Linked DNA regions of Homo sapiens. The protein of the gene in region 3 purifies or fractionates together with the protein of the main gene of each other region. This does not show direct contact. Each region holds a gene or a part of one and is shown on either strand. Other genes may lie near its edges.

Region 1 (3,500 bases), on a different chromosome or scaffold from region 3:
TTTAAAAATGCACAACTGGGGCCAGGCATGGTGGCTCATGCCTCTAATCCCAACACTTTGGGCGGCCGAGGTGGGATGACTAAGCCCAGGAGTTCAAGACCAGCGTGGGTAACATGGTGAAACCCCATTTCTTCACATTAATAATTAAAATTTTAAAAATGTACAACTGACAAATCTTTTTTTCTTAGACGGAGTCTCGCTCTGTCGCCCAGGCTGGAGTGTAGTGGCGTGATCTTGGCTCACTGCAAGCTCCGCCTCCCGGGTTCACACCATTCTCCTGCCTCAGCCTCCCGAGTAGCTGGGACTACAGGCGCCCGCCACCATGCCCGGCTAATTTTTTGTATTTTTAGTAGAGATGGCGTTTCACCGTGTTAGCCAGGATGGTCTCGATCTCCTGAGCTCGTGATCTGCCCGCCTCGGCCTCCCAAAGTGCTGGGATTACAGGCGTGAGCCACCGTGCCCAGCCGACAATTCTTTTTAAATGAAGTTGAGAGTCAGTAAACTTCACTTTGCACAGCTGTGATCAAATTACTTACGGCATTTACATTTTCTCCAGACTGGGTGCCACAACCAACAACAGCTTGTTACTGAGAAGGAACAGTTCTCTGGAGTGGGGAAGACAAAGTCCAACCATGTGGACCTCTTGCCTATACTCCAGAGAGGAGGAGGTAAGAGAGATGGAGAAGAGAAGGAAATAGGGAATAAAATAATTTCCTGGAAATAGGCAACTAGTTCAGGATTTCATTTTAAAATTATCAAATAAAGCTTTAGATAATACTGAGTATTAAAATTTGTTTTTGAGGCCGGGCGCGGTGGCTCACGCCTGTAATCCCAGCACTTTGGGAGGCCGAGGCGGGCGGATCACGAGGTCAGGAGATCGAGACCATCCTGGCTAACAAGGTGAAACCCCGTCTCTACTAAAAATACAAAAAATTAGCCGGACGTGGTAGCGGGCGCCTGTAGTCCCAGCTACTCGGGAGGCTGAGGCAGGAGAATGGCGCGAACCCGGGAGGCGGAGCTTGCAGTGAGCCGAGATCGCGCCACTGCACTCCAGCCTGGGCGACAGAGCGAGACTCCGTCTCAAAAAAAAAAAAAAAAAAAAAAATTTGTTTTTGAGACAGGGTTTCGTTTTGTCACCCAGGCTGGAGGGCAGTGGCGTGATCACAGCTTACTGCAGCCTCGACCTTCCAGGCTCAAGCAATCCTCCCACATTGGCCTCCCAAACAGCTGGGACTACAGATGTGCACCATCACACCAGGCTAATTTTTGTAATTTTTTGTAGAGATGGTCTTGCTATGTTGCGGAGGCAGGTCTCAAGCTCCTAGGCTCAAGTGATCCTCCCACCTTGGGCTTCCAATAAAGTATTTTTAAACGAACTAACATAAGTATATTTTCCTCTCTAGAAACATGATATTAAAACAACCAGAGCGGTGTTTGGAACTCACAGCTAATTCTAAGTAAGGTAATTTGCTCAGAGATAGCTCTGTAAGCAAATCTAAGTTTTTAGAAATAGGAAAAAAGTTCACTCTACACATTTCTTCAATAATTCAGTGATGCCAATAAAATGTAAATGAACTCACTTCCCATAACTGTTTATATTCAAAACAGCTTCTTTATTTCTTTTCTTTTTTTAGAGACAGGGTCTCACTATATTGCCCAGGCTTGTCTCAAACTCCTGACCTCAAGCAATCCTCCCGCTTCAGCCTCTGGAGTCTCCGGGCTTACTTATGAGACACTGTGCCCGGCTTAGCTTCATTTACTTCTTGATGATTTGAAAAATACAAAGTAGTAGCAGTAGTGGTAACAATAGTAGTAATAACAATAATAACTAACACTTATGAAACACTTAGATGCTAGGTTGTAAGCACTGAAAAAGTACAGTCATGCACTGCTTAACAAGAGGGACATGTTCTAACCCTTGTCAGGCATTTCATCACCGTGTAAACATCACAGAATGTACTTACACAAACACAGATGGTATAGCCTACTACACGCCTTGGTTACAGACTATAGCCTATTGCTCCTAGGCTACAAACCTATACAGCATGTTACTGTACTGAATACTGGAGGCTGCTGTAACACAATGGTTTAAGTACTTGTGCATCTAAACATAGAAAAGGCACAGGCTGGATGTGGTGGCTCATGCCCGTAATCCCAATACTTTGGGAGGCCGAGGTGGGAGGATTGCTTGAGCAGAGGAGCTTGAGGCTGCAGGAAGCCATGATTATGCCACTGCATTCCAGCCTGGGTGACAGAAAGAACCTGCCTCTATTAAGAAAAAAAAAGAAAAGAAAGAAAAGAAAAAGATAGAAAAGGAAAAGAAAAAGAAAAGGAAAAGAAAAGAAGATAAAAGAGAAAAAAGAAAAGAAAAAAGGTAAGGCCAGGTGTGGTGGCTCGTGCCTGTAATCCCAGCGCTTTGGGAGGCCGGGGCAGGAGGATCACCTGAAGTCAGGAGTTTGACACCAGCCTGGCCAATATGGTGAAACCCTGCCTCTACTAAAAATACAAAAATTATCCAGGTGTGGTGGCAGGTGCCTGTAATCCTAGCTACTCTGGAAGCTGAGACAGGAGAATCGCTTGAACCTGGGAGGCAGAAGTTGCAGTGAGCCGAGATCATGCTATTGTGCTCCAGCCTGGGTGACTAGTGAAACTCCGTCTCAAAAAAAAACCAAAAAAAAAACAAAAGGTAAGTAAAAATATGGTGTTATAATCTTATGATACCACCATCATATAAGCAATCTGTCACTGACTGAAAATTCTTGTGCAGTACATGACTCTATATAAAGTGAAGCAAAAGCTTACAACTTATATGGTAATTCAGTTCTATCTCATTCTAGATGATTACTCACCAGCTAACATTCTGAGGACGAATAATGATCTTTCGGTAGGCCCCTGACAAGGAATAATCTCGAATTTTGTGTCTCATGTTGTCAATATCAAGATTGTCAGCTGTGAGCATTTCCCTGTAGGCTTCTTGAACTAATATAAAATACAAAAAGTTAGTTGAAATGCAGCTTGTCAGTCAAGTTATCCTGAACTAGATTATAAAGAGAGTAACAATGTAAGTTCAGTTAGACTGCCCTAATAAAATTAGTCACCTTAATTTATAATCCAAAATCTGTTCCCTGGAATCAAAATTTAGTGACTTAGTAACTAGGACTACAGGGTGTACTGAGCTTTGGTTTGGCCAATTTTTCAGTTATTTTTGCAACCAGTCATAGTACCTGTGGTGTAAGGTTCCCAAGCCAACTACAAAAGGCCATTTCATCCAAAGTTGCTAAACTGCATTTTATATGGGCTGAGAGTTGGAAGACAGCATATACAGAGGCTTCAAACTCTCTCTGGAAGAGGCAGTTATAAATAAATGTATAAAAATAAGAGACCTTGGAAAACCATCTGGCTCACCCGCGCACCTGATGTAGAGTCTTTTTTATAGCACTCAAGAGAGACAGTTTTCCAGCCTTTGCTTGCACAGTCATTAATGGGGAAATACTTCTTTG
Region 2 (3,500 bases), on a different chromosome or scaffold from region 3:
AGGTGCAGGCCAGCCACTAAGGCACAACCGGCCCGCCTCGTGCGGGAACAGACCCTTCTCCATCTGGACCCAGGCCTGGGCTGGGTGGCGGGAGAATGGTTCTTTTGCTGAATCTATGAAATGGAAACTGGCAAAACTGCCAAATGAGGGCGAGTCAGAGGCCAGCGAGATGTGTCCGGATGGGGTGAGGAAGAGCCTCCTGGAACGGCAAAGGGGAGATGCTCTAAGGTGAAGGATGAGAAAGCAGAGCCCAGGGAGTGCAGAGGGCAGGGGAGACCGGAACAAAAGCGGGAACAGCCATGGCGATGGGGGGATGGGTACAGGATCTTTGTAGCCAAAATCATCAGGAATTTTCCATGTCGTCTCCAGGGACTAGCCCTGCCCCCAGCCTCACCCCTGCAGGCCCAGCCGCTCCCGCAGCTTCAGCCAAGCCGCTGCCTCCCGGCCCCTCCCTCTCCTGCCCGGACCCTGTCCCCTCCCAGGCCGGCCACGTTCCTGCTTCCCCAGACCCCCGGCACCACCCTGGAGCCCGGAGTGCCCGGTACCCACCTGAGGGCAGGTCGAGCTCCACGCCGACCCACGTGCCCTCTTGGAAGTCGGCAGGCCCCACGTATCTCACCACGCCCGTTTTGTGGGCGCCCACGGTGACGAACTCGCCCTCTCGGAGCCACTCCGGGACCTCGTCAGCTTCCTCGGAATCAGAGGCCAGGGCCTGTCCCCCGGCGCCCGGGGCCGGCGCATTCCCCTCGGCCCCCGGGGAGCAGCCGGGGTCCCCAGCCAGCATGCGCGAGAAGGAGCGCAACTCCGAGGCCCGCACCCTCCGGACGCGGAACGGGGAGCCGGGCGCCGGGGCCTCGAGGTCGGGGCGCTCCCGACCGGGGCTCACGAGCTGCTGGGGGCCAGGGGGCTCCTCGGCGGGGACGGCCGTGGGCGGTGGGGGGTGGCTGATGGGCGCCTCGGGCTCGGCCTCAGGGGCGGTGGGCATGGACCCCGGCGGGGCCGCAGCGTCCAGGCCGGGGCCCAGGGCGTCCGACAGGGTCGCGGTGGAGACGCTGTGGGAGAAGTACCCGCTAGAGGCTTCACTCAGGGGGCTGGGGGGCCCGTCCTGTGCCTCCGGAGCCGGGGTGACCGCTGTGACAGCTATGACAGGCGGTGGGGAAGGCACTTTGGCAGGTTTGTCGCAGATCTTCAAGGCCGGGGCCCCCATCGTCTGCACCAGCACGTCAGGGCCCATCTCCGGCTGAGCCTGCAGCAGGACGGGGAAGCAGGGGCTGAGAACAGAAAACTTTCCAACACGAACCAAGCAGGCAGCTTTGACTTGGAAAAGAGCATGAGGCCAGGGGCAGTGGCTCAGCCTGTAACCCCAGTGCTTATGGAGGGCAAGACGGAAGATCGCTTGAGCCCAGGAGTTCAAGAACAGCCTGGGCAACATAGTGAGACCCCGTTTCGACAAAATAAATAAATAAAGAACATGGCTGGGACCCGGCCAGGCCCTGGTTCCCACACTGGTTCTGCCACTTAGGGCTGCATGGCCCTGGCTTCCAAAGTGATAAAGGTTGAGGGGCCGACAGTGCACCCCGCAGGCCCTGTGCTGTGTGCCCAGGCTCAAGAGCACTGACCATGGCCACAGCCCCTGCCCCATCTACTTTTTACCTTTCATACAAAATAGAATCCAGGGCCTGCCATGCAGGGCCAGCACGCTACAAAGACCAAGGCCCCTCGCCACAGAGGGCAGCACACAGTAGGTGCACGCTAAAACCCTGCTAGGGCTAGTTAGCTTTCCTCCCATGGAGACAAAGCCCCTGCCCACCCCCAACCTCACGAAGAGACTGAGTCACTAAAGAGACCAGAAGAGCACTTTTTTGTCCGGCAAAACCTAAACAATGATCTCATCGGAGGACCGGAACACACTCAGCACAGCCTGGCCAGCTCAGGCACCAACAAGGAGCCACGGGCCTGCAGCCTGGCTGGGCATCCCGAGCAAGGCAGCAGGGGGACGAGGAGGGGTACGAGGAGGGGTATGAGGAGGGGGACGAGGAGGGGGACGAGGAGGGGGACGAGGAGGGGGACGAGGAGGGGGACGAGGAGGGGGATGAGGAGGGGACAAAGGCTCCCTGTGGGCCGTGGCCCTTTCTCTCCAAGGCTGCTGCTCTGGCTGCTATGGAAAGCAGGTGCCATGTCAGGGGCTGGGGGGGCCTCGGACCCTGGAGAGAGGCCAGGAAGCAGCCCCCAGGGAGAAGCCACCAAGTGAGGCCAGCAGCTCTCCTCATGTCGGTCACTCTGTCTGAGTCACCCAGGCAGAGGACACACACACACTCAAAGCCCACATCTCATGGGGGAGAGCAGCCACCGCTTGCCCAAATCCTATTGTTTCTGGGGCATTCTTTCATCTATAACTGAAGCCATGTGAAGAGGCTGCCAGATCATCTTTCTATTCCTATTCACAGTGACCGAAGAAAAGGAGAAGGCAGGAACAGGGAATGAGATTGGTGGGGTGGAGAGCACTGCTATCCAGAAGAAATATGTTTTCCGATATTTATGGAAAAATTATTTATATTACAGGAATGGTCATTTTCCATTTGAAATACGGGATTTATTTGAATGGGGAAGCGGCTGAGATCTATACGTCTCTTACAGTTACTTGGCTTACCTCAGCAGCTTGATAAATCATGCGTTTTCCCAGGAACTGTCCTTTATATTCCCGTTTCCAGGGGCCCTCTTTTCCCCACCAACCACACTTTCAGGGTAGGAAATTAATGGCACCTCTTGAGATTAACAGCCCATTTTTGTGGTGAATCTCTAGGCTGCAAAATTTACTCAATCCAATAGATCAATAACTGTCACCAGCATAAATACTCTAAAAGATTAGGCAATCCTTCAATCATTCTTCCTTTGCACATTGTCCATGTTTTATTTATTCTCTTCTATTTTAGTTTTAATATCACTGACCCAACAGGGGAGAATACGCAAAACTATGAGAGCCGGGAATCTGAACGGTAACCAGGGTCCTGAAATGGCTTCTGTTCCCCGCCCCCACCCCGGGTAAGGCCAGCCACTGTCACTTCCCCAGGCCAGGCTCTCCCAGGATGAGGCCAGCTGCATGCCTCAGATTTGCAAGTATCATCATCCCATTGGCTTCCATGTAAGACACTGGCTTGGGCTGGGCTGGAAGGATCATGGCATTATTCTACAGCAGGCCTCCAGAGGGGAAAGCCCTCATCCAAGGCTGCACTAAGTGAAAAGGCAGGCACTGGGGGCAGAGCTGCAGAGTCAACAAAGCAGGGAGCAGGATGGTGGAAAGCACAGACTGGCACTCCAGGCCCCATCCCCACTTGACTGGAGTTGATTTGTGAGTTGAAACCCAGATGCCATCTATGGATTATACCCTTGCCACTGAAGAAGACATTTCTGGAGACTTCTGCAAAAGCCCAAGCTTGGAAAACCACCATGATGAGCTACAGAAGCTGCTGCCTTCACTGGCAAGGGGCTTGCTCTGACCA
Region 3 (3,500 bases):
CTATAATCTCAGCCACTTGGGAGGCTGAGGCAGGAGAATTACTTGAACTCAAGAGGTGGAGGTTGCAGTGAGCCGAGATCACGCCACTGCACTCCAGCCTGGACAACAGAGCGAGACTCCATCTCAAAAAAAAAAAAAAGACAGAATCTTGCTCTGTCACCCAGGCTGGAGTACAGTGGTTCGATGATAGCTCACTGCAACCTCAAACTCCTGGGCTCAAGCGACCCTCCTGCCTCAATCTCCCAAGTAGCTAAAACTACAGTGTGTGCCACATCTGGCAAATTTTTTAATTTTTTGTAGTGATGAGGTCTTCCTGTGTTGCGCAGGCTGGTCTCAAACTCCTGGGCTCAAGTGATCCTCCAGCCTCAGCCTCCCAAAGTGCTGGGATTACAGGCATACCAAGCTTCTTATATCCTTTTGCAGTCAAGCATTCTGACGCATGAATTTAGCAAACATAATTTTGTATGTTTAGTCTCTTTTATGTGATATCTAATGTTATTTCAACTTTTTTAATGTTATAAAAGCACTTTATTAATGGATTTTTTTTTTTTTTGAGACAGGGTCTCACTGTCGCCCAGGCCGGAGTGCAGTGGCGTGATCTCAGTTCACTGCAGCCTCTGCCTCCCAGGTTCAAACGATTCTCCTGCCTCAGTCTCCTGAGTAGCTGGGACTACAGGCGTGCGCCACCATGCCTGCTGTTTTGTATTTTTAGTAGAGATGGGATTTCACCATGTTGCCCAAGCTGGTCTCGAATTCCTGATCTCAAGTGATCCACCTGCCTCGGCCTCCCAAAATGCTGGGATTACAGGCATGAGCCACCATGCTCAGCCGTATTAATGGATTTTTAAAGCAGATAGCTGTGACAAATAGTAATCCACAAGAAAATATTGTGCCTGATTATTTCCCTTTCATATTAAAAAAAAGTTTATTAAGGAAACAGATGGTAACACAGTGGCTTGTCACCTTTGCAGGCTGTGACCCCTAAAGTGAGAGTTTTCAATGTTGGCTCCCCAGACCCCTAAAAGTTCTACAGCATCTCTTTTGTGCTACTGCAGTGGGGAGGAGGAAGAATCTGTAGTGGAGTGGGCTCTGGGTCCTTCTAACCTGCTTAACCAGAGTAACTCAATCAATTTTTATATGCTGCATTTTCAGAAGGGTTTCACGGGTTAAAAAAAAAAAAAATCATTGAAAAACCATTGCCCTGAAGCAGTGGTTCTCAAAGTACAGTATAGTACTTAGACCAGCAGCATTTAAGCATCACCCAGGCAGGATCTTATTAAAAATGCAAATTCCTAGGCCCCACCCCAGAACTACTAAATCAGAGCCTGGATGCCCAGTCTGCTGTGCTTTCATGAGCTCTCCAGATTTTGATGGGTGCTAACATTTGAGAACCATTGCTTCAAAGATTTCAGATGTTTTGTTAAAGTAGTTCTTGTTTCCTTCAAGTAGTGCTATTTTCATGGAAAACTAAAATAGAATGTTTAGATTATAAATACAAAAACATGCAAATAGTATTTTAGGATAACACTAGAATAATATTTCCTTTATAATTGTATTTAGACTAGGTGGCCATTATGTCCTATACAAGGATTATTTTTTTAAAACCCTGAAGTCTTTAATATGCAATAATTTCAGCTATGAGGTGACTTCCCAGATGGCTCTATAGAGAAGTTCTAGGGCACAGTGAAGAGTCACACCAATATTACGAATGAGGGATTCTTACTATCAATTCTTAACTAGTTTCAATCAAAACTTAAAACTCATCTGACATGTAACATACCTCTTTCATATACTGATTATATAGTGCTTCTGATGACTCTAGGTAAGCCTGTGCAGTTTCAATTTCTTCTCTTTCAGACCACAAGATACCCAGGTTATTCTGGAAAATAAAGAAAAAGAGAAACAAACAATGATATAAGACTTCCAATTAAAGTAACTTTCATAGTTTTGAAGTCAATACTTATAACCAACCAAATAGTAGAGTTGGATTACCAATGAATTAATTATTCACAATGATATTGACCTTATGTAGTGCAGCAGGTAGCTGCTAAAATTAACCCCCAATGATCCCTGCTTCGGGGTATTCATGCTCTTAGGTAACCTCTTCCCCTTGAGTACAGGCTGGTTTTAGTGATGTGCTTCTCACGACTAGACTATCACAGAAGTGATGGAAAGTCATTTCCAAGATTAGTTAACAAAACCCTTGATTTCCATTTTGGATGCTATCTATTGCCTGCTTTTTTTTTTTTTTTTTTTTTGAGACGGAGTCTCGCTCTGTCGCCCAGGATGGAGTGCAGTGGCATGGTCTCAGCTCACTGCAAGCTCTGCCTCCCAGGTTCATACCATTCTTCTGCCTCAGCCTCCCAAGTAGCTGGGACTACAGGCGCCCGCAATCACGCCCGGCTAATTTTTTGTATTTTTAGTAGAGACGGGGTTTCACCGTTTTAGCCAGGATGGTCTCAATCTCCTGACCTCATGATCCACCCACCTCAGCCTCCCAAAGTGCTGGGATTACAGGCGTCAGCCACCGCGCCCGGTCAATTGCCTGCTCCTTCTTAAGGAAGCCAACTGCCATGTTGTGAGCCACCCTATGGAGAAGCCCATATGGAAAGGAAATGAGAGAGGTCAACAGTCTGAGGCCCTCAGTCAAAAAGCCTGTGAGGAACTGAATCCTGCCAACAACCATGTGAGTAAGTTGGAAATGGATCCTCCCGGCGTCCCAGTCTTCAAGTATTACTGCGAGCCCCAGCAGGTCAACAATATGATGTGGGCCTTTGAGTAAGGAACAATCAGCTAAGCCATGGTGAGATTCTGAGATAATAGACAAAGATGGATCAGAAACATATAATACTTTCAAAATACTATGCTCTTCCAGAGAACTTTTTTTTTAAAAAAAAAAGAAATAGGCCAGGCATGGTGGCTCACGCCTGTAATTCTAGCACTTTGGGAGGCCGAGGCAGGCAGATCACTTGAGGCGAGAAGTTCAAGACCGGCCTGGCCAAAATGGTGAAACCCCATCTCTACTAAAAACATAAAAATTAGCCAGGAGTGGTGGCGTGCACCTGTAATCCCAGCTGCTTGGGGGGCTGAGGCACGAGAACTGCCTGAACCTGGGAGGCAGAGGTTGCAGTGAGCCGAGATCGTGCCATTGCACTCCTACCTGGGTGATGGAGCAAGACTCTGTCTCAAAAACAAAACCAAAACCAAAAAATTATATATATGGGCCCGGCACAGTGGCTCACACCTGTAATCCCAGCACTTTGGGAGGCCGAAGTAGGCAGATCACTTGAGGTCAGGAGTTCGAGACCAGCCTGGCCAACGTGGTGAAACCCCATCTCTACTGAAAAATACAAAAAAAATTTAGCCGAGTGTGGTGGCAGATGCCTGTAATCCCAACTACTTGGGAGGCTGAGGCAGAAGAATTGCTTGAACCCAGGAGGTGGAGGTTACAGTGAGCCGAGATCGTGCCACTGCACTCCAGCCTGGGCTACAGATTGAGA
Region 4 (3,500 bases), on a different chromosome or scaffold from region 3:
GCCTCAGCAGCAGCATGACCCTCTGGGCAGACCCCGGAGAGCCCACCCTCCCCTGGGCTAAGACTGAAGACTGACAGCCCTCAGCTGTGAAATGAGGGAACAGACCCTGGCGCCCCGGGGCTGACAGCCCTCAGCCCCCACCCCAGCCCTGCCACCTTCATGGGCAGCAAGCAAGCTGCTCCTCTCAGACACATCCATCTCACGCGCCAGGTTCTGGGGCAGGGCTGTGCTGCCTTGCAGTGCTGGAGGCCTCAGGAGAGGGCCGAGGGGTGGGCAGAGCCCTGGCCTCACGCATCTCACACGTCACGCGTCACGTGTCACACACACACTCGGCCCGAGGCAGTGCCTAGATGCTGCATGTTGGTTTCCCTGATCAAAGCCGCAGAGGGCAGCCCAGCCCCGCGACTCTCCTTCCGGGTCCCTTTCTGGCCTCTGTCTATATGCCCGATAGTCTTCCTCGGCTAATTCCAGAGCATGCCTCTGTGCTACACTGGCCATGTTTCTGTCATACACCACGCAGCCCCGCAGTGCACACTGGAGCATCACATGCTCCTCCTGCAGGTGGCTGTGACTCCCAAGCAGCTGTGCTGCCCCCCAGTAGGCACCAGGCCCTGGGCCCTCTCCAGCTTTTGCTCTGCACACAAAGCCACATGGACACCACCGTGCGGGCCTCATCCTCTGAGGCTGCCTCACCTCCTGCAGGAGGCTCAGCTTCTCCAGCTCCCACTGGTGGTCCAGAATGAGACTGTCACTCCGGGGCCTCCAGCCTGCCAGGTTCTCCTCGCCCCGGACATAGGCCACAGATGTGTCCAGGACTCGTCGGCGCCGGCGCTGCATCCCTGCATGGGGCACGTGGACATTCCACCCCTACCTGATGGGTGGCTGCTCCTCCCACCCATCCTAGAGGTCCGCCCATCTGTGAAGCTGTCTCCCCTCTGGAGTGGAGATGGGCTTCCCCTGGTCCTTGGTCCACCCTGGGGCCCAAAGAGCCATGTAGGCCTCTTCCATAGGAAGTTATCCAGCCCGGCGTCCCATGGCCATCTCGGCTGTGCCCTGGGAACCCAAGGAAGCCAGCAGGCCTGACTCTCCTCCCTCGCTCTCCTCCCATCTCAGAACAACTCCAGAAGCCACAAGGTGAGTGCTTGGGTTCTGTGAGGGATCCCCCTGCAAATGGCAGCTTCGCTGTGGTCACCCCAAGTGGGCAGAGGTTGAGCAGGCCAGGAACCCACCCAGTGAGAGCAGGGCAGATACCTACCTGGGCTGCCCGCGTCAGCCACGTGGCACAGGCTGAGCTCGTACACACCAGTCACACGGTTACTGTGGGGAGTAGAAGGAGTGACATGCAGTCACCAGGCCCCGCAACAGGGACACACAGCCAGCCTGGCTGCTGACTTGCCCCACTATCAAACGCACAGTCAGCCTGGCTGGGGTGATGGGGTGTTGAGGTCCCTGAGCTACAGCCCCTGTTCAGAGTCCTCATCCCAGACTCCCTCCGGCCCCCAGAGAAAAGATGCATTGGCTGGTCTTGCTCAGGTGCCCATGGGGCTGTGACGTGAGGCCAGGCCCCCACAGCAGCCTCCACTTTGTCCCAGCCCAAGTGGGGTACAGGCAACATGAGCACAGCATCTGGCATCTCCAGTCCCTCCACGGCGTCGAGAGCCCCTCAGGCCCCATACCCCACAGAGCAGCCCCACTGTGCCCCGGACAGATTCTGAGAGCACCTCGGCCACCCTCCCACAGACAGGTCGGTGGCATCCCACAATTACTGAGTGACCTCCAGAATGACCACAGCCAGCCCTCAAGGACACTGGATCCTGACCCCCAAGCTCTTTCCTCCCAGCTGTGCCCAGTGTGAACCTGGACACCAGGTCCATGTGGCAGACCACAGGGAGACCCACTGAAGGTGGCCACGGGTGCCCGGTAGCCTCGGCAGCCCTGCTGTCAGGGCCCTGACATTCCGGCTCATTCTCCCCCACCCCCAAGAATCAGGAGCGTGTTCAGCACGCAAGCACGGCTGGTCCTGGTGTTCGGTGTGTGGCTCCCCAAGGTGCTGACAGCCTCCAAGAAGAGCCACCCAGCAGGTCCTGTGGGAAGCTGTGTCCAGAGCCCCCTTCCAGCCACCGCCCACTTATCCAGCTCCTCCTTCAGTGCCTTGTGGGCAGTCAGTCCCATGGCACAGGTTCCGTGGTCCTCAGGGAAGAAGGTCACCGGCGGCGGGGGGGGGGGGGGGGGAACGGTGTGGCCCCAGGATCACCCACAGGAGGCCCCAGGTGGGCACCCTGGGCCTGCCCCTCCTCCCATCCGCTGCAGGCTGGCCCTCAAGTCCCTCATAGTGGTGTCAGTGTCCCCTGCAGGAACCATGGCCTCCACAGAGTCTTCATCTAGGGTGAGCAGGAGGGGACTGAGCGCAGGGAGCCAGCCAGGAGTGTGGCTGGGCCTCGCACAGGGTGAGCTGCCGGGTGGCCCAAGGACCGCTGCCAGGCAGAGCCCTGCCTGGCCCGCACCGAGACCAGGGTGGGAGTCCATGTGGTCCTCACCCCTGGGAGCTTACCTCTCTGAGGCCCGAAGGCTCCCACTGCCAAAGAGGTTGCGGATGGAGCGCGAGGCTGGCAGCTTGGCATCACGGGAATAGAAGACCATGCAGAAGTCCTTGGTGACAACAGCCGGCTGGGTGCAGTTCTCCATCTGAGATAGGCGGGAGCAGGACTCAGGCACAAGGACACCCCGAGTGCCCAGGTGCCCTTCCAGCCTTCTCCTGGGGGCACAATGCCCAGCACCGACAGGCAGCCCCAGGGCCTTCCCAGGGCCTCAGGTGTGGCCTGGACGCAGGCAGGAGAAAGTCTCTGCTCCTGCCCTCGAGAAAACCCCACTGGGGACAGGTAGCCACAGCTCTGTCCACCCCTGGGCTGCCTGAGGGACTGGTCTCCATGTGTGGGGACCCCGAGGGTCCCAGACATAGGCTCACTGCTCGGGCCTCAGCTGCCTCACCATAAAATTGGGGTGACCCCTCCCCGACCCTGGAATGTCTGTGAGGATCAAACCAGGTCTTGTTTGAATGTGCACATTTTAACCCAAACACCACAGAAAATGACTTCCTGGTGGATGACACGCTAACTGCTGAACAGCTGGCCCCTTTGTCTTCCTGAAGTGGGGGCAGCTGCTGTGCATGGCTGAAGAGTCCCAAGCACTCGCTGGGAAGAGCTCTGCCAGCGCCTCCTCACGGCAACCTCACCACCATCTGGTGAGATGGTCACACCATCCCCATGTGAAGCTGGAATAATTCGGCTGTAACTAAGGAGAGGGGATGTGCTTGCAGATGCCCCTGCCCACTGCTCCCCACCCTCCCTCTCCCTCACTACTATGACCAGCAAGAAACGCCCACACTTCCAGTCACCTCTTGCACTTGGAAGGGAGGCCACAGCCCAGGTCTGGCCACGGCCTATGTACTGCAGACTCTGGGGGTGCTGTGGGGATGGAACACTTCTGTTTTTGTGCTGCCC

The links.
Region 1: the proteins of KIFBP (region 3) and PUS7 purify together in Homo sapiens (affinity purification with mass spectrometry; one large-scale study listed by BioGRID and IntAct). This does not show direct contact.
Region 2: the proteins of KIFBP (region 3) and KIF13B purify together in Homo sapiens (affinity purification with mass spectrometry; 2 studies listed by BioGRID and IntAct, with this or other methods). This does not show direct contact.
Region 4: the proteins of KIFBP (region 3) and KIF1A purify together in Homo sapiens (affinity purification with mass spectrometry; 2 studies listed by BioGRID and IntAct, with this or other methods). This does not show direct contact.

What each region holds. Positions count from the first base shown.
Region 1 is NC_000007.14:105,459,772-105,463,271, forward strand, and holds part of PUS7 (pseudouridylate synthase 7 homolog), read right to left. Parts: intron 2,980-3,500; coding exon 2,850-2,979; intron 1-2,849. UniProt on the Homo sapiens protein: Pseudouridylate synthase that catalyzes pseudouridylation of RNAs.
Region 2 is NC_000008.11:29,071,071-29,074,570, forward strand, and holds part of KIF13B (kinesin-like protein KIF13B), read right to left. Parts: intron 1,247-3,500; coding exon 550-1,246; intron 1-549. UniProt on the Homo sapiens protein: Involved in reorganization of the cortical cytoskeleton. Regulates axon formation by promoting the formation of extra axons. May be functionally important for the intracellular trafficking of MAGUKs and associated protein complexes.
Region 3 is NC_000010.11:68,998,803-69,002,302, reverse strand, and holds part of KIFBP (KIF-binding protein), read right to left. Parts: intron 1,880-3,500; coding exon 1,781-1,879; intron 1-1,780. UniProt on the Homo sapiens protein: Activator of KIF1B plus-end-directed microtubule motor activity. Required for organization of axonal microtubules, and axonal outgrowth and maintenance during peripheral and central nervous system development.
Region 4 is NC_000002.12:240,722,720-240,726,219, forward strand, and holds part of KIF1A (kinesin-like protein KIF1A), read right to left. Parts: intron 2,686-3,500; coding exon 2,552-2,685; intron 1,318-2,551; coding exon 1,256-1,317; intron 840-1,255; coding exon 694-839; intron 1-693.